4 separate regions of the Homo sapiens genome follow, and all the other regions are linked to region 4. Evidence: fine-mapped expression QTL. A gene starts in region 4. Each other region holds a variant in brackets. All regions are shown on one strand. Distances are from middle to middle.

Evidence for each region. PIP is the estimated chance that this variant, and not a neighbour inherited with it, causes the effect. A credible set is the group of variants that fine-mapping cannot tell apart.
Region 1: its variant is the best candidate, but not a certain one, in a credible set for the expression of KATNAL1 in iPS cells (iPSCORE, PIP 0.90).
Region 2: its variant is the best candidate, but not a certain one, in a credible set for the expression of KATNAL1 in fibroblasts (GTEx, PIP 0.87).
Region 3: its variant is the best candidate, but not a certain one, in a credible set for the expression of KATNAL1 in aorta (GTEx, PIP 0.76).

What each region holds. Positions count from the first base shown.
Region 1 is chr13:30,199,879-30,205,481 of GRCh38, forward strand. KATNAL1 (katanin catalytic subunit A1 like 1) reads right to left here. Exons shown (of 11, transcript NM_032116.5): 11 at 2,752-5,603. Among named protein-coding and RNA genes, the nearest start is that of LINC00385, 49 kb to the left of the region's middle. RefSeq lists a silencer at 4,767-4,816. The variant T/C (reference allele first, on the strand shown) is at 3,187.
Region 2 is chr13:30,193,589-30,199,191 of GRCh38, forward strand. No RefSeq gene overlaps it. Among named protein-coding and RNA genes, the nearest start is that of LINC00385, 43 kb to the left of the region's middle. The variant A/G (reference allele first, on the strand shown) is at 3,035.
Region 3 is chr13:30,284,046-30,289,648 of GRCh38, forward strand. The region is part of intron 1 of KATNAL1 (katanin catalytic subunit A1 like 1); the gene reads right to left. Among named protein-coding and RNA genes, the nearest start is that of KATNAL1, 21 kb to the right of the region's middle. RefSeq lists an enhancer at 1,834-2,456. The variant T/C (reference allele first, on the strand shown) is at 2,939.
Region 4 is chr13:30,304,990-30,310,592 of GRCh38, forward strand. KATNAL1 (katanin catalytic subunit A1 like 1) reads right to left here and starts at 2,562. Exons shown (of 11, transcript NM_032116.5): 1 at 2,342-2,562. RefSeq lists silencers at 2,197-2,306, 2,337-2,566.

The sequences.
Region 1 (5,603 bases), 110 kb before region 4:
TGCTAGAGTCTTAAAGGTCCTTAACAAATGTTCTGCCATCTGACTTGCTTTAAGCCTTGTCTGCAGCATTCTTCAAGATCAGAAACAGATATAAGTTCTGCTTCCAGGTCAGAATATGATCTTGAACATATATTTTTAAATTTTCATGGGTTCAACTCTTCACCTGTAAGATGAGGGGACCAAGTCATTTGCTCTTAATTTCAGCTCTCAATGCTGTAGGTTGCTGGTGAGTCTCTCAAAACTTACAGGGAAGGTCTTAAGAAGATATTAGAATGGGTAAAACTAGGAAAGAGTTGCCCATCAAGCTTTTCTGATTGTAAAAAGGATAAGAAGTAACCACCAAGCACATGTGCTCTCTCCCCTGATCCCTTTCTGCCCTGTTCTGGGTGTAGCAGGAGCCAGAGGAATGCCCAGGTGAAGCCCCACGTCTGCCTGGCCAGGTGCAGTTGAAGTGGTGACATCCAGCCAGGGAGGGGGAGGAGCACCTGAGTACCAGCCTCCAGCCTTGGGGCATCAGTTGTTGGAACCAGCCAGGTGAGACCTGAGCCCACCCTGCCTTTCTGCTTATCATTAGAAAGGTAGCAGCTGATGCTGGGAAGAGACGGAGCCAGGCAATGCTTCCATCTTCCCTCACGATTTCTAGTTAAATTCCTGGCATCTCTGGGCAAACACTCCAACACTGTGCCATGCTCTGCCATGGGAGCCAGGTCAGTCACAGGTGGCACTGGTCATATGCACTGGAGAAAGGACTGCAGGGAGAGTGGGAGGGCTCTAGCCACAAATGTCTCCTGTCTTTGTCCCACTTAACCTAATTCTTTTTCTTTATACCCCCCAAGAGACCGAAACCTCACTTAAAGCCACAGGAAGAAAATTACGGCTGGGGCCATGGCATTAAATTGTTGCTAGGTCCCTTCCAGTTATAAATATTACACAACTGCATGGCAGCATAATTATGCAAAAATATCTACTTCACACTTGGTCCACCAGGAGCACTTCTGGGATCCAAAGATAGAGGTAAAAAGGCCGCGGATAGCCCAGAGAAACGACACACAGCACTAGAGCCCAAAGAATAGACCTCCCTACCACTCCTCATCCCTAAACTGCAGTACTCATTTACACATGATGCTAACAAGCCTAACAACTATTTCTCTAGGTTCACTGAAGACTAGAAATAGGACACTGAAGAGGAAGAAAGGCTGATAAGAGACCAGTGGAAATGTTATAAAAGCAAACATCAAAATTCAAAGACCAGTCAGTGAGAGAGCTTTAAAGAAAAAAAAAAGCTGTGCTACCCCTCCACTAACTGCAGAGAGTGGCATAAAACAAGGGACTGACTGACCTCATAACAACTCTGAATCCTAAAGAAAAGGGTAAGTTCCAATTCTTCAGTTTACAAACTCAAGGAACAAATGTGATATGCTTTAGCAAAGTTTCAAATTGATAAGCATGTGAAAAAATGTTCCACATCATCTGGAAACTGCAATGGAAACAATGAGGTACCGTTACACACCTATCAGTGAACCTAGTGAAACAGCTGTTAGGCTTGTTAGCCTCATTATTGCTATTAGAATGGCAAAACCCAAACTACCGACACTACCACATGCTGATGAGGATGTGGAGCAACAGAAACCTTTATCCATTGCAAGTGGGAATATGTAACGGTACAGCCACTTTGGAAGATAGTCTGGTAGCTTCTTATAAAACTATACATACTCTTACCATACGTTCTGGCAATCACATTCGTATTTACTCAAGTTGAAAACTTATGCACTTGCAAAAACCTGCACATGAATGTTTATAGCAGTTTTACTCATAATCGCTAAAACTTGGATGCAAACAAGATGTCCTTGAGTAGGTGAATGGATAAACAAATTGTGGTACATCCAGACAATGGAGTGTTATTCAGTGCTAAAAAGAAATGAGCTATCGTGCTACAGGAAGACATGGAAACTTAAATGCATACTGCTAAGTAAAAGAAGCCTGTCTGAAACAGCTACATACGATTCCAACTATATGACATTCTGGAAAAGACAAAACTAGAGAGTCACTAAAAGGCTCAGTGGTTGCCAGGAATTGGGAGGCGAGGGAAAAATGAATAGGTGGAACACAGGGAATTTTTAAGCAGTGAAACGATTTTGTCTGCTGTTGTAAAGATGGATACATGACATTATGCTTTTGTCAAAACCCATAAAAGTGTATAACACAAAGTGAACCCTAATGTCAACTACTGTCAATTACTGAATAATAATGCATCAACATCAGTTGATCAATTATAACAAATATACCACACTAATGTAAGATGTTAGTAAGAGGAGAAACTGGGGCGGGGGTTGTAAGTAAATGGGAGCTCCAAATTTTCTGCTCAATTTTTCTGTAAACATAAAACTGCTCTAAAAAAAATAAAGTCTATTAACTAAAAAAATTGTTTGGAGGAGGTCATAAAGTAAGACTTAGTCATCTAGAAAATGCACCATATGGAACATCTACTTTGCAATGGTGCTACACAAATAAGACAAGTGTATTGATTATGCCAGTTGGAATTAACTGAAAAAACACACATCTTACCTGCATCAACCTTGAAATTATTGGCATAAGCACAGCAAATACAAAATGTCAGGTTTATAATATGTGATTTTATGAGAACAAAAATCTGGGGAAAGCCATCCCTTACTAGTGAGGGGTTTGTTGCTCCCACTGGTGGCAAGAAGTGCACCCGTGACTATAGGTCAAAATGAACCACAAAGAAAGCGATGACAACCAACACTCTATAAATTTATTACCAAATATAACCTATGCACAAACACAGCTAAGCTAATGAGATTAGCAAAGTAGCAGCACAAAAGGTAAGGAAAAACACATTTAATAAATACAACTTGGAAACGTCTTTTTCTTTAAATTAGGTTCAAATACTGGGAGACAAACACTGAAACAAAAGTCTTAACAACGCACTTACAAGCCATCATAACATGCAGTGATCCTGCGAGACACTGTGTCCACTCACAGCCATGTTAACTGGGGGCCACTCCCTGCTGCCGTACCATCATATGAATATACATTTGTCAGTAAAAATGTGACAAAAATGTGATGTTTTTCCAGGTTTGTGTGTTTTCATAAAGTTACTCAGGTTTTTAGAGAATGAACATAGGAACATGTAGGATCCACAATTTTTAATGTCATCAGGTTAGT[T/C]TGTATTTACAAAACTCTAAGAAAATAGATGTGTGTTATGTTTGGAACTGCTGCTTTGAATGCAATACATCCAAATAATGAAGCTGACCATAACAAAGACGGGAAAAGTAATTCAGACATTTCACAGAGGCCTTATTTGGAATACAAACACTTTGCTAGAGAAAGAAAGATGGAATATTTTAAACAATTTCAAGATTAAAAAGAAAAGTTAATGGGAGGAGGGCAACAGCAGGAGGGAAGGATGTGCTTAAAAGAAACAAATCTGCATAGATGATGAACTGAATTTAATTCAATTCATTCCTGCCTAAAACTAAGCCTGGTTAACTGAGGTAGACTCTGGGAATTACACGTGCAAAGAGTCAGGTTTTCCAAAGGGCGATATTTTGTCATTTCAGATATGGTAAAGTAAAAGTGCATTTTATAGTTTCGAACAATCAAATGGGAGTCCTTTTATAAGAGGGAAACTTCTCTATACAAATTCCCTATTTTTTTGTGTCAAATTTCCATATGTACAAAAACCTACACACTGTTGGTAATAAAGCAATATCTAGGGTTTTTTTCATTTATTTTCTCAGAAAATGAGAAAGGTAAAATAAATTTTATGACATTACCTAAATATTTTTCCTGTTTTTATTAATAAGTCACTGGGAATTTAGAAATATCATTAAAGCTAAACAGTTGTCTGGAGCCAAAAAACCTAATAAAAATTCAAAGATCTATTTGTTAATGAGGTGAATGTTTAAAAATATATCTATTATCCTAATAATTTGATTATTAAAATACACAATTTCCACATTAAGAAACAAATATTAAAAGCAAATGTCAAAAAAATTTAAGTATGAAAAGCCTAATTTAAAAGTATAAATAAGTAAACTTACAATAATTACAACAGAGTTTTTAGCTTTTTCTGTAAAAATAGTTAGTGGAGATGACAGTAAAACATTCGAGGCTTAAATATTTTTACCCCCCTAACATGTCCCCTAAGTATAATTTCTGCTTTTTCCTATTGTGACATATTCTCAGGTTCACACAAATATTACGTGCATCACAAATTAAGTGGTTTCTTTAAAATATACAATCAAAACAGTTACGGAAAAAAAGATACAAAAAAGAGAATAGTTAGGATTTTTTCCTCATACAAGTTAAGGTGGCCTTTTCTTGGAAAAGGCCAGCATTCACCCTTAACATTTTATGCCTGTCATACAGAATATACCCTAAACTGATTTATCACTAATAAAAGTTATCTTAAGAGTGGGAATCCACTATTAGGCAAAGAAAGACTCAATAACCTAGACAATACTGAAGGAACCGAAGTCCACTCACACAACATGAAATACTTGCCTAGTCCTTCATTTTATCTCAAGTTAGGGTGGGGGGAAAGTGAATCACAGCTACCTCAGCTGGTTAGTGTTTTATGATTCTCATCACACATTTAGCAGTGTATATAAAAACTTATTCCTAAGGAAGGAATTCAAATGAACTCAAGCTGTCCAAAACCTAGAGTACTAATAATTTCATGTTCAACAGAGTCAGGCTATACAAAACAAAGTCAAAGAATGACAATCATACTGTAAATTTGGGTTGTACACACACATTTTCCCCTGATGTATGTGTATGACTGTCCATAGATTCACCAGGTATTGGTTTGCTTACTTTTTGAGTAATTCGTGCTTTCAGCCTATGTTTTGAGAGTGAAATATGACATCACAATCTCAGAAGCTGAAATTAAGCCCTGAGCTATACAGCTAGACCACCGCATGTTTTCCCCTTCCAAAATGGCTAGGTATTGTGGGAGGTAGTGGTCAGACCCGAAAGTGTGTAGATAAAGTCTGTGATGCCACCATCTATTGTCTACTTGGATCACTAGAAGGTTGCAGCTTCCATTAAAGAGGTGTTTATTTTACTAATATTAATTTCCTTTAAAAAAAGAAATTATGGGGGCAAAAGGTTTATAGTAAACATGTCATGCTTATAATAAACAGGCAGCTTGGGAAATGGTAAAAATTGTTCATTAAAATAGATCCATAATAGTTACACATTATTCAAATAAATGTATATCAGTTCTAATTTCAAAACAGATTTAAAGTGCAAAAAATAGGGGAAAAAAACTTTTATATATTTTTCCAAAGCACAAACAGATTACTATGCCTCTCCATCAGTGATCTAAACTCTTGTTTCAGTAGTAGAAGCCAGAAGCTATACAGAGTCGTTAGAGAAACTGCCAAGTTTGAACTGTACTCTCTAGTCCAGCTTTGTCTTGGTCCACAGAGCTCCTACTCACTGTGTCTTGGACCAACCAATACACGTCTACAGAATGAAGGGACTATCTGATCAGATATCTGCAAAGCAGACTTAGCTTAGTCCTACAGTCATTGTGCTGCAGAACTCAAAATACTCATGTTTTCAGAGGAATTAAA
Region 2 (5,603 bases), 110 kb before region 4:
AACAGCTGTCAAAGAAATCATGCTAAGGGGCAAACGCAACTATACAGTAAATCATCCGGAAGGTGGGGACCATCACCCACCCCTGGGTTAATATTCCCTCCTTAGCCACCTGGCAAACACCTCTGCTTGCTTCAGCACGTGGCTGACCTCACCTCCTCCAGACCATTTCTCAGGTGCATGCTGTTATAACCACACACAGTATCCTATGACTGCTTCATGGCTTTCTCTACCAGGACATGAGTTCCTTGAGGACAGGAGTTGTGTCTCAAATTTGTTGGCATTCAGTAAGTTGGACTGATATATAGGTGTAAATAATAGGCCTATAGAAATACTTGTATGAGATTCAAATTAGAATAGACAAAAATAAGTCCTCGTGAGAGTCTCCAGACTCCCTCCCTGTGTAATCTCCCATGGGCTGCACAGAAACTTTCGTTATGAAAGACCTTGGGAAAGTCCCCGTTATGGAACCTGAGACCCTCGGACATTATATAATGCTTTTTCTTGTGAAAAGCAAATGAGACTAACAAATCATGACTCTAGTCTGCAATTCTTAAGCAAAGTAAACAAAATCTGTGTGATTTTCTCTAGAAGGTATGTTTCATAGCTGCAACAGGAAAGACAATGTGTAATGTTTGTAAATCCCCTATTTGAAGTGCCTCTTTATTGAGAAATTATGCTTTGCTTCTATTGAAAATAGAGACTTTTGATGATTAGTGTGCTAAATGAGGCAAGAGTTCTAATTCAGTGCTACCAGCAACTTCCATTTTTTGGTTCGGGTATTAAAATAGGTGAGAACAGAACCTCTTCTCCTCCTTCCTCTCCCACCTTTGCTGGAAAAGGTGCCAAATAGCTCTCACAAGCCCTCAGCAAAATGCCTCCATGCGCATATGTCTACCACGGCCACTAGGTAAGCCATGCCAATCATGGGGCTCAGAGCCTCCTGGATGATTGATGAACTCCACTTCGGAAAAAGTCTGAAGGCAGTGTGGGTATTGCCTAGATACAGCTCAGACTGTATTTCTCAGGGAATAAAAGGGAAGGGGAATATTTTTGTCCACTACTAGTATCCTAAGACTTCTGTAACACTGCGATAAAAGTATCAGAGTATATAGTCTAGTTCAGGGAAGAGAAGGGCCCCTAATTTTGGCAGACCCCAAAACAGCCATTCACTCTTTGAGTCAAAAATGGCTCACTGAAAGTCAGACTGACCTGTTCACAACGACTGGCAAGCTTAGGAGTATTACCCTCACTGCATCCACTTTTTTCAGAGGGAGCGACAAAGAGCCAGGGTACACACGTGGACCCGCATTACTTGCAGTGGGGAAAAAAACTCCACAAAAATAAAAAGAGCTAACCTGTGATACGCTGGTAAACTAACTCTTCCAGGGGGATAGGGGATAGGTAAAGCCCTGATGTGTAGTGTTTGCCAATTTCCATGTGTGAATCCTCTCACCGCGGCTACAGTTTCAGCTATCAACGGTGGAAAGGCTTGCGACATTCCTTAACATTCCACAGTTGGCTTTGGGACAGCCTGGTATGTACCAGCCCTCGCACATCACTGCAGCTAACATTAAGGGTTTGTATGGTGCCGTGATAAGCACTTTAAATTCAGTATCTCATTTAATCTTCCCAATGGTCCTACAAAGGAAGGTCCTGTTATCATCTCCATTTTGAGGTGAGATAACACAGCCACAGAGAGGATAAGTAACTTGCCCAAAGTCCCACAGCTTAGAAGTGGTACAGCTGAGGCTAGAATTGTTTTCTGACTGCAGACTTGAAGTTCTCACAATACCCAAATACATCTCATGATCCAAAAGAGGCCTGTTTTAAATAGCCAATAAGTATCTAGCCAAATAGCAGGAACAGTGCCTTGGCCACAGGAGGCACAGTCCAAATAAGACCAACTATTTGTGGCTTCTGTCAACCTTCTTCACCCACTCACAGCAGAACACATAAGGATTCCTTTCCCTTGAAAACTCGATCCTCTCCTTCCTTGATTCTTCCTTCCAGTCTGACTCTCAAACCTTAACACTTTCCTGTTAGTGACTAAGAGTCTCTGTTCCTCTCTTGGTCCTCCCTTGAACGATTCCAATACCATGTACTATAACTGAAGAGCCCTATTCCTTTTCCAGGAACAAAGAGAGGTCACCAAGCAGCTGTGTTGCCCTAGGGAGCTGGCAGCTATCTAAATGTCCTATACTAGCACAAGAAGCACAGTGAGCTGGTCCTTCCCCAGGGGATGTTTTTAACATCAGATGGAGAAACTGTTTTTGACACTGGCACAGGGATCACTGCTGACTTTTTAAAAAGGAATGAACAGTGACATATTCATATCATATCTAGAAGTCAGGAATAATTTTAAGACTGAGGAGAAATAAAAACTCAACAGAAATTAAGCGTGTCTTAAATCTTTCAAGAACTATCATGTCTAGACTGATCAAAATCAAGAAAACCACCACTGGGATAGTTAGAATCCCCAGGCATTTGAGGGTTAGGGAGGAAGGCAGAGAGAGGGCAGATGCCCAGGGCCTGACCCTGAGAACCTGATTGGCCAGGTTCAAACGATAAAGAGACTCACAATGGCCTGTCAGGAATAGCATGAAGGATGAGCCCCCAGGTGGCCAGGAAACCAGGCATGGCTGCTGCTGCTCACCAGGCCACTCATCAAATGCGTCACTGAGTAATCCGCACAGAGGAAGCTGGGAGAGGGCCAGGGCTGCAGCCAGTGGCACCCTGCAGTCCAGGAGGAGGTCTGAAATTGCAAGCTGTCCACCATTAACAAGTAATGAAATCAATTTCCTGGGGCAGGTCCAGGAATTTTACAAAATGAAACCAATTAGAAAATGTCAGAATGTATCATATATAATAAAGGCAAAGCTATTGTTTTATTAAATTTTTGCTGTATGCACAGAAACAGGCTCATATACATATTTAGGTTAAATGAAATGCTTACTTCCTCTACTCTACAACTTTATTCTTTTTTTAAAAAAGGGATGAGAAAATAATTACTATATGAAAGAAATCCATGTTACAT[A/G]AAGAAAAGTGATGTTGGGAAATGTTTTTCCATTGTTACATGATTTTGTTGTCAAAAACACTGAGCCTCTTTTTTAAGAACTCTAATATGTGCAACTTAAAATAATTGTCCTGTTTGTTTTAAAATCTTCCAAATGAAGAGGTGCAATAGGTTCTGAACATTCAACATAAAATGCAACCTTTCAATTAATTTGCAAGAACTGACATCAAGAAAGACGCAAATAGCCAAATAAACACTTCTGCTTAGTGGGCATGATTTTAAAATGAAGCTCATTACTTCAGATTGCAGCCAATAATCTGTTTCTTCCACTTGGATCTACACACCTTTGTGAAGTTACACTTTTAGCTGTAACAGTCATTAAAACTAAGCATTGAAATAAAAATGAAATCATTGTCCCTAAATTGTTATCCTAAGATTTAAAAAAAAATAAAGTATATTTAATGTCATGGCTCTCAATGAAAATATTACTCCTATTTTTTGGAAGGATTTTGTAGCAGTAAGATTACTTTTCAGTGTCTTCACATTATAGTCTTCCATATTTCTACATTTCATGGATTTTTATAAATTATATACAAGCACTACTATAATTTACAAGTATCCTTAAACTACCAACATAGTAACAGTGTGTAACTCACACACACTTTATTGTTAACAAAGCCTGAAGAGCACTGTCCTAGGTGAGAGTGACAGTGACAGTGGTCAACACAATCCTGCCCTATGGGTCAAATGAAATGGGGTCAAGAGCTATGATTGACTCTTACTTAGGCCAAGGGCTTCTGGGAGACAGAAGGGCAGACACTGATTTGATGTCTACAAATATTGCTTTAAAAATTTTTTATAATTTTATATTTCTTTTACAAAGTAAATAATTATCATATGAAAAAATACAAAGTAAAAGGTAAAAGTCTCCCTTAATGCAAGAGGTTTTGCATTTTGATTTAAATAAAGACAATTTTAAGTGCTGGTTTTAAAAAGGAATTACCATGAAAGTTTTTTCCTAAAATACTAAGAATTCATCTATGGCGCGAACTAATGAAATATGTAAGAAATTAGTTTATATTTTGAAAAGTACACAAAAGATGTTTTTATTGTCTAATAATCCCATACTAAACAACTCAGGGAAAAAGTTTCCACTAAAAATAGGAACTGATTATTTCTTGTGATGAACAAATATGTATTTTACACAATTCCCTAATGAGAACCAAGGAAAATGGTGCCTTTCTTTTAACACGAATATTTCTGAATGCGGTTTCTAGCTGCCTTGAACAAACTCCCTTCTTTTGTTGCTACGTTTCTGCAAATCTCTTCCAGATCCACTGCGGTTTATGACATTCTATCCAATTAGTTGTCAACATAGTTCCTTTTACCTTCACTGTGATGACTTTACTTTTGCTAAGAAGATTTCATGCAATCAACCTGTTCAATTAAGGCTATACAAAAAGCTATTCTCAAAAACCTACTGCTAGGCAACAGAAACGTGTTGAACTAAATCTCAGGCGAAAAATATTTCTAAATAGAGATGAGAACAATTGTAGTCACTTCAGAATAATTAATACAAAATACAAAATAAATTTTGTTAAAATTTGTAAGCACAGGTAAACACACACAAACCTTAAATGAGTATTTTCACATGTATGTATATGTGTGACTATGTACTGTATACATATTTGGCATACATGGTAGATCCCCAATAACTAGCTGACTTAGTTTAATATGTTTGCTCAGCCGCCCACCTCTGTCACCTTTGCTATGAATTTGAGAACACAGTATGGAATGTCAGTGTTCTGCGTTTTCAAGAGAGCACAGTTATTGCAAACCCTTTGCAGTTAGTTGCTTTGAAGAGCAACAAATGAGGTGAATTCTTATGGTAAAGGCAGAATAGTTTATTATCCTAAATTCACAACTAGGTTAGATTTTGAAATATGGGCTTTGTATTGCAAACCAAACTAAAACATTTCATCCACATTTATTTATCTTTGGGGAAAAAAGTTTTGATTGGAAAAAGGCTTTTAAGGGCTAACAGAATTCATGAGAAGAGTTCCTCAGGCTTCTTAGAAAGCTAATTCTTCTTAAGAAACAACTTTGATAAGTGTAAATGAATCAGAAACATATGGATTAAATTTCCCCTTAAACAAACACTTTAAAAAGGATTTAAAAATTAAAGGAAATATGTTTAGTAAAGTATATTTGAGAAATGTTACAAAACATATTTCAAAATGTTTGGAAAATAGCTTGAGGTATTTTACAAAACCCAAATGAAGTTCAATTCATCCACATCTAATTACGTAATAATTACTAACACTATAGTTTAGGATTTTTGTTATGGAATACAGTGGTCATACCATGGTTATTTGTTTAAAAAATTATTTAAGATGTAGTAATTGACAGACGTTTTGAATATTCAGACGAGATTAGGTGTGTTCAGATGGTGTGGCCATGGTATTTTGAACATTCAGAATTAACTTTGTTCTGGTGCTTCAAAGTTGAACAATGAGCCCCATCCATGACTTGGTGAAGCCCCTATGACAACTATGCGTCCAGCTAAGGACTCTGAAGCTGTCATCCAGTC
Region 3 (5,603 bases), 21 kb before region 4:
AGATGGGTTTCACTGTGTTGGCCAGGCTGGTCTTGAACTCCTGTCCTTAGGTGATCCACCCACCTAAGCCTCCCAAAGTGCTGGGATTACAGGCGTGAGCCACTGCGCCCAGTCTAGAACTACTTTGAAAGTCAAAATAGTTACCATTCTTTGAGGTTATCTGAATGCATCTTACAACACTAAACAACGTTTTCAAATTTGGAAGTACAAAGGAGATTACAAAAGAACACCCACGGAAATAATAGGGAGAAAGGTTACACAGCTCTGAACTACTGATTTACTTACAGGTACATAAAACCGGACACTAGTTTTCCTTATTCCTTTATAATTACCATAGGCTGCAATAACAGATGAAATTTTTTTTTATTCAATTTATTCTTGACAATATAAAAAATATGAATATCACATAAATATATGAATATATTTTCTACTGAAGTCAGTTGAAACTATAAAAACTAGTTATCACTAAAACTTCTTGGCCCCAAGAATAAAAAGTTATACTTAAAGAATACATTTTAAAGAACAGTCTATAGTTGTCCATGTACCATTTATACTCATGTAATTGCCTCAAACTTAAATCTAAGCAAACACCTATAAATTACACTCTCTGAACCCCAATTTGTAATCTTCTAAGACCCCATCATTCTCTATATCTTTTTGGCCATGCAAATAACTATTGTTATTTTCCTTTCTATAAGATGTTAGTTAGAATACCCTCTAGATTTCTGGCTTCCACCAAAGCTCTCCAGTCCAGTAATTCTGGCTTTTCTTCCAGGCTTTCCAAAAGTCTCCTAGAATCATCCAAGGCTTCTATGCAAAGATACTTTCCTCCCAAGACTAAAAAGAATAGCAAGTCCAGAGTTACAGGAGAATGATATCCTGAGAAAGTGTCAAAATTGCCTTCTGATTTCCAGGAACAGTAAACCAATGAATACACATAAAGAAGAAAATCAAAATACTACTCTATGCCTTCTTCAGGGAATTAAACTTTGGTTTGGGGAGCCTGACTCTTCTACTCTGACTCTCAATCTCTTATCTGTTCTTCAGGGACTCAAAAATTCTTCCTGAAAATTAACCATCACTAGTTCTAGGCATTTCAAAGGACTCCAACACATTTTTAAAAACAAATGTTTATGTGTTTGGCATGTTATTTTCCTCTTATAAGGTTCCATGAAGGCAGAGTTGTATTACTTGAGAATCACACTGCAACAAATAGTACACTACTAATACGGGTTGGCTCTGTGTCCCCACCCAAATCTCACCTTAAATTGTAATAATCACCACGTGTCAAGGGCAGGACCACGTGGTGGTAACGGATCAAGGGGACAGTTTCCTCCATGCTGTTCTTGTGATAATGAGTAAGTCTCATGAGATCTGATGGTTTTATAAGCATCTGGTATTCCCCCTGCTGGCATGCATTCTCTCTCCTGCTGCCCTGTGAAGAGGTGCCTTCCCCCATGATTCTAAGTTTTCTGAGCCTCCCCAGCCATGCAGAACTGGGAGTCAATTAAACCTCTTTTCTTTATAAATTACCCAGTCTCAAGTTTTTCTTCACAGCAGTGTGAGAAAGGACTAATACAGTAGACTAGTACCAGGAGTGGTGTGCTGCTACAAGGATACCTGAAAATGTGGAAGTGACTTTGGAACTGGGTAGCAGGCAGAGGTTGGAACAGTTTGGAGGGCTCAGAAGAACACAGAAAAATGTGGGAAACTCTGGAACTTCCTAGAGACTTGCTGAATGGTTTTGACCAAAATGATGATAGTGATATGGACAATGAAGTTCAAGCTGAGGTGGTTGCAGATGAAGAAGAACTTGTCCTTGCTGTGCTTTGGCAAAGAGACTGGCAGCATTTTGTCCCTGCCCTAGAGATTTGTGGAACTTTGAACTTGAGAGAGGTGTTTATGGTATCTGGCAGAATAAATTTCTAAGCAGCAAAGTGTTCAAGAGGTGATTTGGAAGGGGGGATTGCTCTTAAAAGCATACAGTTTTAAGCATTCACAAAGATATGGTTTGGAATTGGAATTTATGTTTAAAAGGGAAGCAGTGAATAGAGGTTTAGAAAATGTGTAGCCTGACAATGCAATAGAAAAGAAAAACCCATTTTCTGGGGAGAAATTCAAGCCAGCTGCAGAAATTTGCATAAGTAACAAGGAATCAAAAGCTAATCACCAAGACAATGGGGAAAATGCCTCCAGGGCATGTCAGAGATGTCGGCAACCCCTCCCATCACAAGCCCAGAGGCCTAAGAGGGAAAAATGGGTTTCCTGGGCTGGGTCCAGGGCCCCTCTGCTGTGTGCAGCCTCGGGACTTGGTGCTCTGCACCCAGCCACTCCAGCCATGGCTAAAAGGGGCCAAGGTACAACTCAGGCCATGGCTTCAGAGGGTACAAGCCCCAAGTTTTGGCAGCTTCCACATGGTGCTGGGCCTGCAAGTGCACAGGATGAGAACTGAGGTTTGGGAACCTCCACCTAGATTTCAGAGGATGTATGGAAATGCCTGGAGGTCCAGGCAGAAGTCTGCTGCAGGGGCAGGACCCTCATGGAGAACCTCTGCTAGGGAAGTGTGGAAGGGAAATGTGTGGCTGGAACTTCCACTGAGTCCCCACTAGGGCACTGCCTAGTGGAGCTGTAAGAAGAGGGCCACCATCCTACAGATCCCGGAATGGTAGATCCACTGACAGCTTGCATTATGCATCTGGAAAAGCCACAGACACTCAAGGTCAGCTGTGAAAGCAGCCAGAAGGTGGGGATGTACCCTGCAAAGCCACAGGGGTGGAGCTGCCCAAGGCCATGGGAACCTACCTCTGACATCAGTGTGACCTGGATGTCAGACGTGGAGTCAAAGGAGATAATTTTGGAAGTTTAAGGTTTAATGACTGCCCGATTGGATTTCAGAACTGCATGGCCTATATCCCTTTGTTTTAGCCAATTTCTCCCA[T/C]TTGGAACAGGTATATTTACCCAATGCTTATACTCCCCTTATATCTAGAAAGTAACTAACTTGCTTTTGAAGCAGGCTCATAGGTGGAAGGAACTTGCCTTGTCTCAGATGAGACTTTGGATTTGGACTTTTGAGTCTGGAATGGGTTAAGACTTTGGGGGACGGTTGGAAAGGAATGATTTGCAATGTGAGGACATAAGATTTGGGAAGGGCCACAGGCAGGATGATATGGTTTGGCTCTGTGTTCCCACCCAAATCTCACCTTGAATTGTAATAATCACATGTCAAGGGCAGGAGCACATGGAGGTGACTGGATCATGGGGGTGGTTCCCCCATGCTGTTCTCATGATAATGTGTGAGTCTCATGAGATCTGATGGGTTTATAAGCATCTGCCATTTCCCCTGCTGGCATTCATTCTCTCTCCTGCAGCCCTGTGAAGAGGTGCCTTCCGCCATGATTGTAAGTTTCCTGCGGCCTCCCCAACCATGCAGAACTGTGAGTCACTTAAACCTCTTTTCTTTATAAATTACCCAGTCTCAGGTATTTCTTCATAGCAGCATGAGAATGGACTAATACAACTACTTTTACACAGTAACAAATTTCAATGTCCAGTGGATCTATCCACAGAATACAGGACAACCACACAAAGTGTCATCTTCAAATTTAGAACATTAACACGAAACAATATGGCCTTATTATAATGAATAATATGTAATTAATAAATCCAGTAGAAACAAAGATGCTCTATAAATTATTTCCCTTTAAAGTCATTGTGAAACAAAAGCATAAATCCTACTTACAAATACAGACACAAAACTATAAAAGATAAAAATATCCTGATACAAATCAGGGGTTGCCAAACTTTTCCTGTAAAAGACCTAACAAGTAAATATTTTAGGCTTTGACAGCTAACAAACAAAATGAAGGATATTATATAACTACTTATATAATGAGACAAAAAATTCCATAATTCTTATCGATGCAATTCAAAATATTATAGAAACAATAACAGAGTACAACTTTCTGTAAGACAGGTTGACTAAGGAGAAGAATGAAACTCTTTTTAGGGACAATATTTCACTTAGTTGGGATTCAAAGTTAGTATTCCCTATCATCAAAATCAATCACAAATGTTCATACATTCTAATGTTTACCTTGAATACAATACATTTCATGTTTGAAAATGTCTACTTTTCAAAGTAGGTTAGGTGCTACTTTATACTGATAGTAGTCACAAGCATATGATTTCAATTCAGCATAATCATTGTTTGGAAGGCATCTAAAGGATTTACTCTTAGTATTTACGTGCCATTATTTGCAGATTAATCATTCCAATTAAAGGTTAAATAAGAAGTGCCTCAACTGCACAGTTAAATGGAAATTTCCTTGGCACTTACATCGAGTTCTAAAAAATGCTGCTGAAACTGTAGTTTGAACTCAGAAAACATACCTATTGCAAACTGGGTAGGAATGGAGACCTTACTTCTTTGCTTTAACTTATAACAGCATGGAAAGCTATATAAAATTACTTGATATTACTTGTGATTCAAAGAATAGTGGTTGCCATTGAAATAACTTTACTGCAGTATTAGTTTTGATATAACAACTGTTTTGTCTTGTAATTTTAGGTTGAATTCATTAAGAAATACTATTGAGTCTGCATCACAAATTGATTTCTAAAGCCATTCAGCGTTCAATATTCAGATTGACAGCAGTTTCTCACATTCAGAAAAATTTCAATCTCACTTCTAAATTCAAAAGTTTGCAATAAAGCCTTACAACTATTAAACCATCAAATTGCTGTACAGCAGGGCAAGTGAGAATATTCAGCTTCTATTTCTGACAAAAATTCCTAGAACTGACAATGGTTAAGTCCACAAGAGCAAATGTTGACACTACTGGTTCAAGATTACATGATAGATTCAAACATTCTCTGCAAAATACCTGCTAAGAAATAAAATAAGTAACTGTAGACTTCAAACTTCTTACACTTTCACAGCTTTATTTGTCCACCTGAATTCTTTTCTATTCTATACAAATTTTTACTACCATCAGTTATAACACATCTTAGCAGACTACACTTCATTCAGGTTGCATGCCATTAGTGTTTTCTCAACTTTTTGAAATATTCTTATCTTTAGCTATTCTACACACACTATTCATTAAGATTATTTAACACTTCAAACTCAGCCTTGACTTTTCAAATAAACAACTGAGCAGTATTGGTAACATCTGTCAACTCATCAAAAGCCAAGGAAAACCACTCAAAATAATTTGCCTTTTTAATTGATTATTGATGTCCTCAATTCTTTGAGCAACTCTTCTTGCCAAAAGACTAACAGTCTTAAGTTTACCTTCTCCAGACACAATTCTGCGCCTGTTGTAACCAACACAATTTAGTTACTTCACTATTGATAAATGACTTCCTTGCTTGGTTAACAAATGAGCCACTTGGAAGTTTACTCTGGGTGCAGCCTGATTTTTATTTTCTAATTTTGTAAAGAAATTCTACTGGAATAAGATATTCCTTTTTATGTTTTCTCATTTTTCTGACCATTACTTTCCTGTGAGTTGGGAATATTGTGATGAATGCAGAGTCTGGTAATATCAGTGTATATTGTATTTAACACAGCTATAGTATCACTGCATAATACAATGCCTTGT
Region 4 (5,603 bases):
CCAAATGCTTAATTCAGACTCTCTTCACTTCTCTACTGGACTTTGTTTTTTTCTATTATACAACTGGCTTTTCTACTACCTGTAATGTTTCCCCTCCCAGGTCCATTCTCTACACTGGGGCTGGAGTTATCTTTCTAAAATACAAATCTGACGCCACCACCACTCTAGCTAAAATTCTTCAATGACTGCCCTATATCAAGAAAAATTCTAAACTCTGAATATGGTGCCAAGTACTTTAAGATCTGGCCTCACCCACTAATTGCAAGTATTCTGGGATCCAGTCATTCAGAACTACCTAGCGTTTCCCAAATACAAAATACTGATTCTTCAATCTATCCTTTGCTTATTTTGTGCCATCCATTTGTCCTAGAATGACTTTCCTCATCATCACTCCAGTGAAAGCTTATTCAACTATTTTAACACAAGTTAAAAGTCAAATCACACTGAAGGCCTCCCCTGACTTCCTTAGACAGAGTCAGGATCTTTCTACTAAATGACAGAGAATGGTCAGTGCTTGAGATCAGGACCAGACCCACCTGGGCTGAAATCCCAGGTTCACACGTTACCAGCTATGATTTTGAGCAAGGCCTCTAAAGCCTGTTTCCTCATCTCTAAAAATCAGTAACTACTTCACCAACTGTTTTGAGGATTAAGTAAGGAGTTGCATGCAAAATACTCCTCACAGCACCTGACATATTCAATAAATGTTACTGTTATGTGATTATTTCCTCTGGGCTCCTAGAGCAACTTGCACTTATCTCTACCACACTACTGTGATGACAAGACTGCCCATGCAGGATACAGACTATCTTTTTTCATCTCTTTATTCTCACCACCTGGCATAATGCCTGGCACATAGGTTCCTAACACATTTTGAATGAATAAATAAAATACTTCAAACCTTATGTTGTATCACATAAGGCCTCAATTTTGTTTTCTACCTGTCTTACTAAACCTACTTTCCATCTCCTCCTTGTACAAAATTGCAACCTCAAGTAAAATTTACACAGGTCAACTTCATTTTAATTAAGAGAAAGTTTTATAGGATTTGTGGTCTTTTTGTTTTTAAACACACACACACACAAACTCACAATAATATCAACAATTCTCCAACTTACTCCATAAAGCAGCAAATTTCTAGGATGGTTATCTACCTATTAAAAAATTTTAAAGGGTCGTCAAGGAAGGTTTCGTAAATCTGTGTCAGCTTCCTTTACCAGCAAGTCTTTGAGTCAACTCTAAGGACTCAAGTGTACTCCTGAACATAAAAAATATATAAAGAATTAACTAAATAATTAAAACATGGTATTTTTCCTTCCGAAAACATGCTGAGAAATTCTGAATAACACTGGAATAATCAAAGAATTATTGCTGCCTACTGCTAAAAAAGTCTGTTTTTAAAAGTTACTAGTAATTTAAAGCTGAACTAATCAAAATATGTGTAGGCAGTGTTCAGGCTGGCAAGGGGGGGGTGGGGTGGAGCACTCATTTCACAACCTTGAACCTCAAGAAATAAAATTCAAAAATGCAAAAAGTTAAAAATGCCAGATACCACCATATAATCGCAATGACATCTTTTTATCTATTTCCACACTTAACCTTTAAACATTACTGCCCTTTGAGTAATTACCAATTGATGGGTTTAATATGCAAACACCTCTGAGCTACTTTAAAACAAACATGACTAACCCAGAAATAAACGTATCCAGGAAAGGAGAAAAACCTGTTAAAACACGGTTTCTCAGGTCTCACATCCAATGTGTGACATACATACGGTTCTGCACCGAAAGGCAGCAACCTGCGAGGGTCAGAGGCGCCGAAGACCCGAGGCCCTGCAGCTTGGGCGGCTGCTCATCCCTGAGACTGTGCAGGGCGGTGGCCCAGCCGGGGTGGGGCTGAGCGCTGCAACTGGGGCGGGCCCAGCTACAGGGCGGGAAGCCCGAGGCTCACCTCCACTTCCCTTTCCCAACGCACAGAGCCCAGGTCCGCGACCACTCAACAGCCCCCTCAAGACAAAGAGAGATTTTTTTTTCTGTCCCGGTCCGCTCAAAGTTTATCGGTCTTTCCCGGCGGTCGGGGCCGCCGGGCTTTGTAGTTCGCCAGTCCGAGCTACCCCACCAAGACCGCGAGCCCGAGGAGTCGCTGAACTACAATTCCCATGATGCACCGCGAGCCTGGCGCTCCCGCGCCCCTCCCCGTCCCCGCACGGGAGCCAGCGCCCGAGGAACCCCGCAGCCCACTGCCCTGGCGTCTCCGGCAGTGGGAGGCCGAGAGGGGCTGTTGGCTAGAGCCCTCCACCACCTGCTGTCTCGCCCTCGCCCCTTTCTCTCGGATTCATTACCCAGAAGGCGCAGGTCCGGGCACATTCAGCGATGCGGTCCAGATGGGGTGCGGGTGGGGCGCAGGCCGCCGCCGCCGCCGCCGCCGAGTCCGTTAGCTCGCGACGTGCGTGAAAAGGCGGCGGCGGCGTAGTGTTGCCATGGCAGCCGCGGCCGCGCGGTGGGCGCAGCGCGGGAGGGAGCGCGGGGGCTGTGAGTCCGCTCTGGGGCGGAGCTTGGGACTCCCGCCCAGGTTGCCGGGGGGAGGGAGGTGCAGCGGCGCGGGGTGGGAGAGCAGGGAGACAGTGACATTGAGGAGGACGTGTGGCCGACTGAGCTCTGGTCGTGCTTGATGAGCCTGCCTCCACTGCGTCCAGCCCCCGTGGCAGGGCACCTTCGTGCCTGCTGCTTTCGGAGGTGATGCCAGTGGCGTCGAAGGAGGGGGCACCCGGGGCGTCGCAGCGCCTTTCCCGCCGCCTGTCCAGGCGTCCGCCGCTGGGTCTGCCCCCAAGGGATGTGTGGATCCTACGCCACCTCTGTGTTTTTCTCCAGTCAAACCGAATTGAAGTCTTTCGCACCCCCTTTCTCCATTCTCTGGGGAGGGGGATAGAAGGGAATCCTTCGATAAGATGGAATGCATATGGCCTTTAGGATTATTCAGGAGGTTTTAGAATTTGCAAATGGCATTGCTTTCGACTGAATTTGGATTTATGCTGTTTCTTGGCAATCGTTTGTGGACTCTAGGATAAACAGGTTAAGAGCGTGGGCTTCTAAAACGAATTCTTAGTTCACGTCCTGCCCCTGTGCTTGGTAGCTGATGACCAGAGGCGCCTTTCTCACCTCTTAACGTTTTGATCTGCAAAAATGGAGATATCCATCTTGCAACTCTTGTAAGAAATACACGCATTAATACTGATGAAGCTCTATAAAACAAAGCTTAGCATTTAACAATAGCTATTAAATATTAATTATTTAATCAATAGTGATAAAAGTCAGAATAGTGGTTGGCTGTCGGGGAGGAGTTTGAGAGAATTTTTTGTAGTGATGAAAAAATTCTATAGCTAAGAGTTTCGGTTACAGAAGTATATGCACTTGTCAAAACTCTTGGAATGGGACATTTAAGATTTGTACATTTCACTGCATGTAAATTTACCTCAAAAGAGAACATAAAAATGTGTTGTTATTATTATTAGAGCTATAGACTCTAATGGAAACTACAGAGATATTCTAGGCCCAATCTCTAGATTTTATAGATGGGAAAACTGAGGCCCAGAAATTTAATAGAAAAAAAGAGGAAGGGGAGTGAATTCGTGACCTTGTCATTTTCTAGTAATGAATATCTCCTGAAAAATTATGGTTGAAAATAACAAAAATGGCTCCTGTAATCCAGCTGAGTCATCCTACCACAGAGATTTTCTTGAACTTGACTGAGTCCCTTATCCACCTTGTGGTGTTCCCCACGGCCAATGTCCTCTCAAGGATTGCACCGTCACTTCTGGCTCTCAGTTCTTGCTTTTCCTGAACACTTAGACCTCTCCACATATCACCTCTTACAACTCTCCTCTCTCTACTCCTGCTGACACATAATTTCGAAATCAGCCCCTTTTCTTTGGTTGTTTCTATAGCCAACTCTTTAGAAGGTTTGGAGCAGATAAGTGGTTTTAAATTAAGGATGCAAAAAACCTAAAATTAGAAATCCCTGCTCTTAAAAGTCCTTCAGTTCCTCCCATGATATTTTTATCCACCTACCACCTACCCCCATTTTTTCATCATAACCTGTAACCTCCCACTATTGTACCATCTTTCTGGTCCCATCTCTCCCCTCCTCTCCTCTCTTTATACAATACTTTTATTTCCATCTCCTAATCTGTGCCTTCATAGCTACCTGCCATTCCTAAACTGTTTACCAAAGTTTTTTCCTACACAAAGTAACTTCCCAAGAGGAACTCTGGAGCCAGCTATTAAAATAATATTTTTTCACATATGTATCCTCATATTCTATTTGATTCAGTCCACAGTGTAGCTGCTCAATAAATATTAAGCAGCTTACGTACATGACCTGTTGATATAGTTTGGCTGTGTCCCCACCCACCTCTCACTTTATTGTAATAATTCCCACCTGTCAAGGGCAGGGCCAGGTGGGGATAATTGAATCATGGGCGCGGTTTCACCCGTACTGTTCTTATGGTAGTGAATAAGTCTCATGAGATCTGATGGCTTTATAAATGGGAGTTCCCCTACACAAGCTCTTTTGCCTGCCACTGTGTAAGAAGCCCCTTTGCTCTTCCTTCATCTTCCGCCATGATTGTGAGGCCTCCCCAGCCATGTGGAACTGAGTCCATTAAAACTCTTTCCTTTATAAATTACCCTGTCTTGGTTATGTCTTTATTAGCAGCATGAAAACGGACTAATACACCTGTCCTGGCTACCTTCACAGTGGGTTCACTTATGAAACCCATTTTCTTACATCCATAATAATGGTTTACTCTAGTATAAATGAGGAAGCTATGTGATAATAGCTGGAATCTGCTGTCTAAGAGGAAGAAAAGAAACCAAAGTAACCATAGCTTGTACAGAAGAAATGACAGCACTTAAGAGATGAAGTCCGGAACAAAGTCTGGTATGAAGCCATAGGACATCCTTATAGGAACTTGGACCTGTCACCTGCAGCAATTTGGTCACAACTCTGCATATGTAATGAGCATGTAAATAAATTCTCCTTTACTCCTGGAGAAGATGTTACTGATCTGCTACCAGCTGAACACATGTTTGTAGTAGGGATGATAGGTTCACCGGATCCATCTCTCCCTGATCTGGTTTCCCTTGTGACCGATCACTTGTCTTTCTTTGCAAGGCAGCTGGCCAAGGTTGTAGTGCAGCCTACAGCCATGACGAAGTCTCCAAAGACAAGGTCCCAATGCATAACGCTCCTTGTTTTGTGAAGCCAGGATCCCAGAAAATCAGCTCAGCAGGACAGGCCACTTGAGAATGGATGACAGCAGCACAAACAAAAGCTGTCACAAAAGTGAGTTGGAGGTGGGCAGTCGCGGGAGGGAAGACCACAAGCCACTGAAGCACAGCCTTAAAATGCCTCGCATGGCTATGGACAGGTAGGAACGAATAAGGACCGATAGTAAACCATAGTTTATTGTTTTCACCAGATACTTTGGACCTGTTCAAGTGATAGTTAAACACCCTATACAAATCCAAAAGATGGAGCTGAAAGTAGTAGCACATTAATCCACACAGGCAGTGTGGTCAAGAGCCACCACCCTCATTTACAGC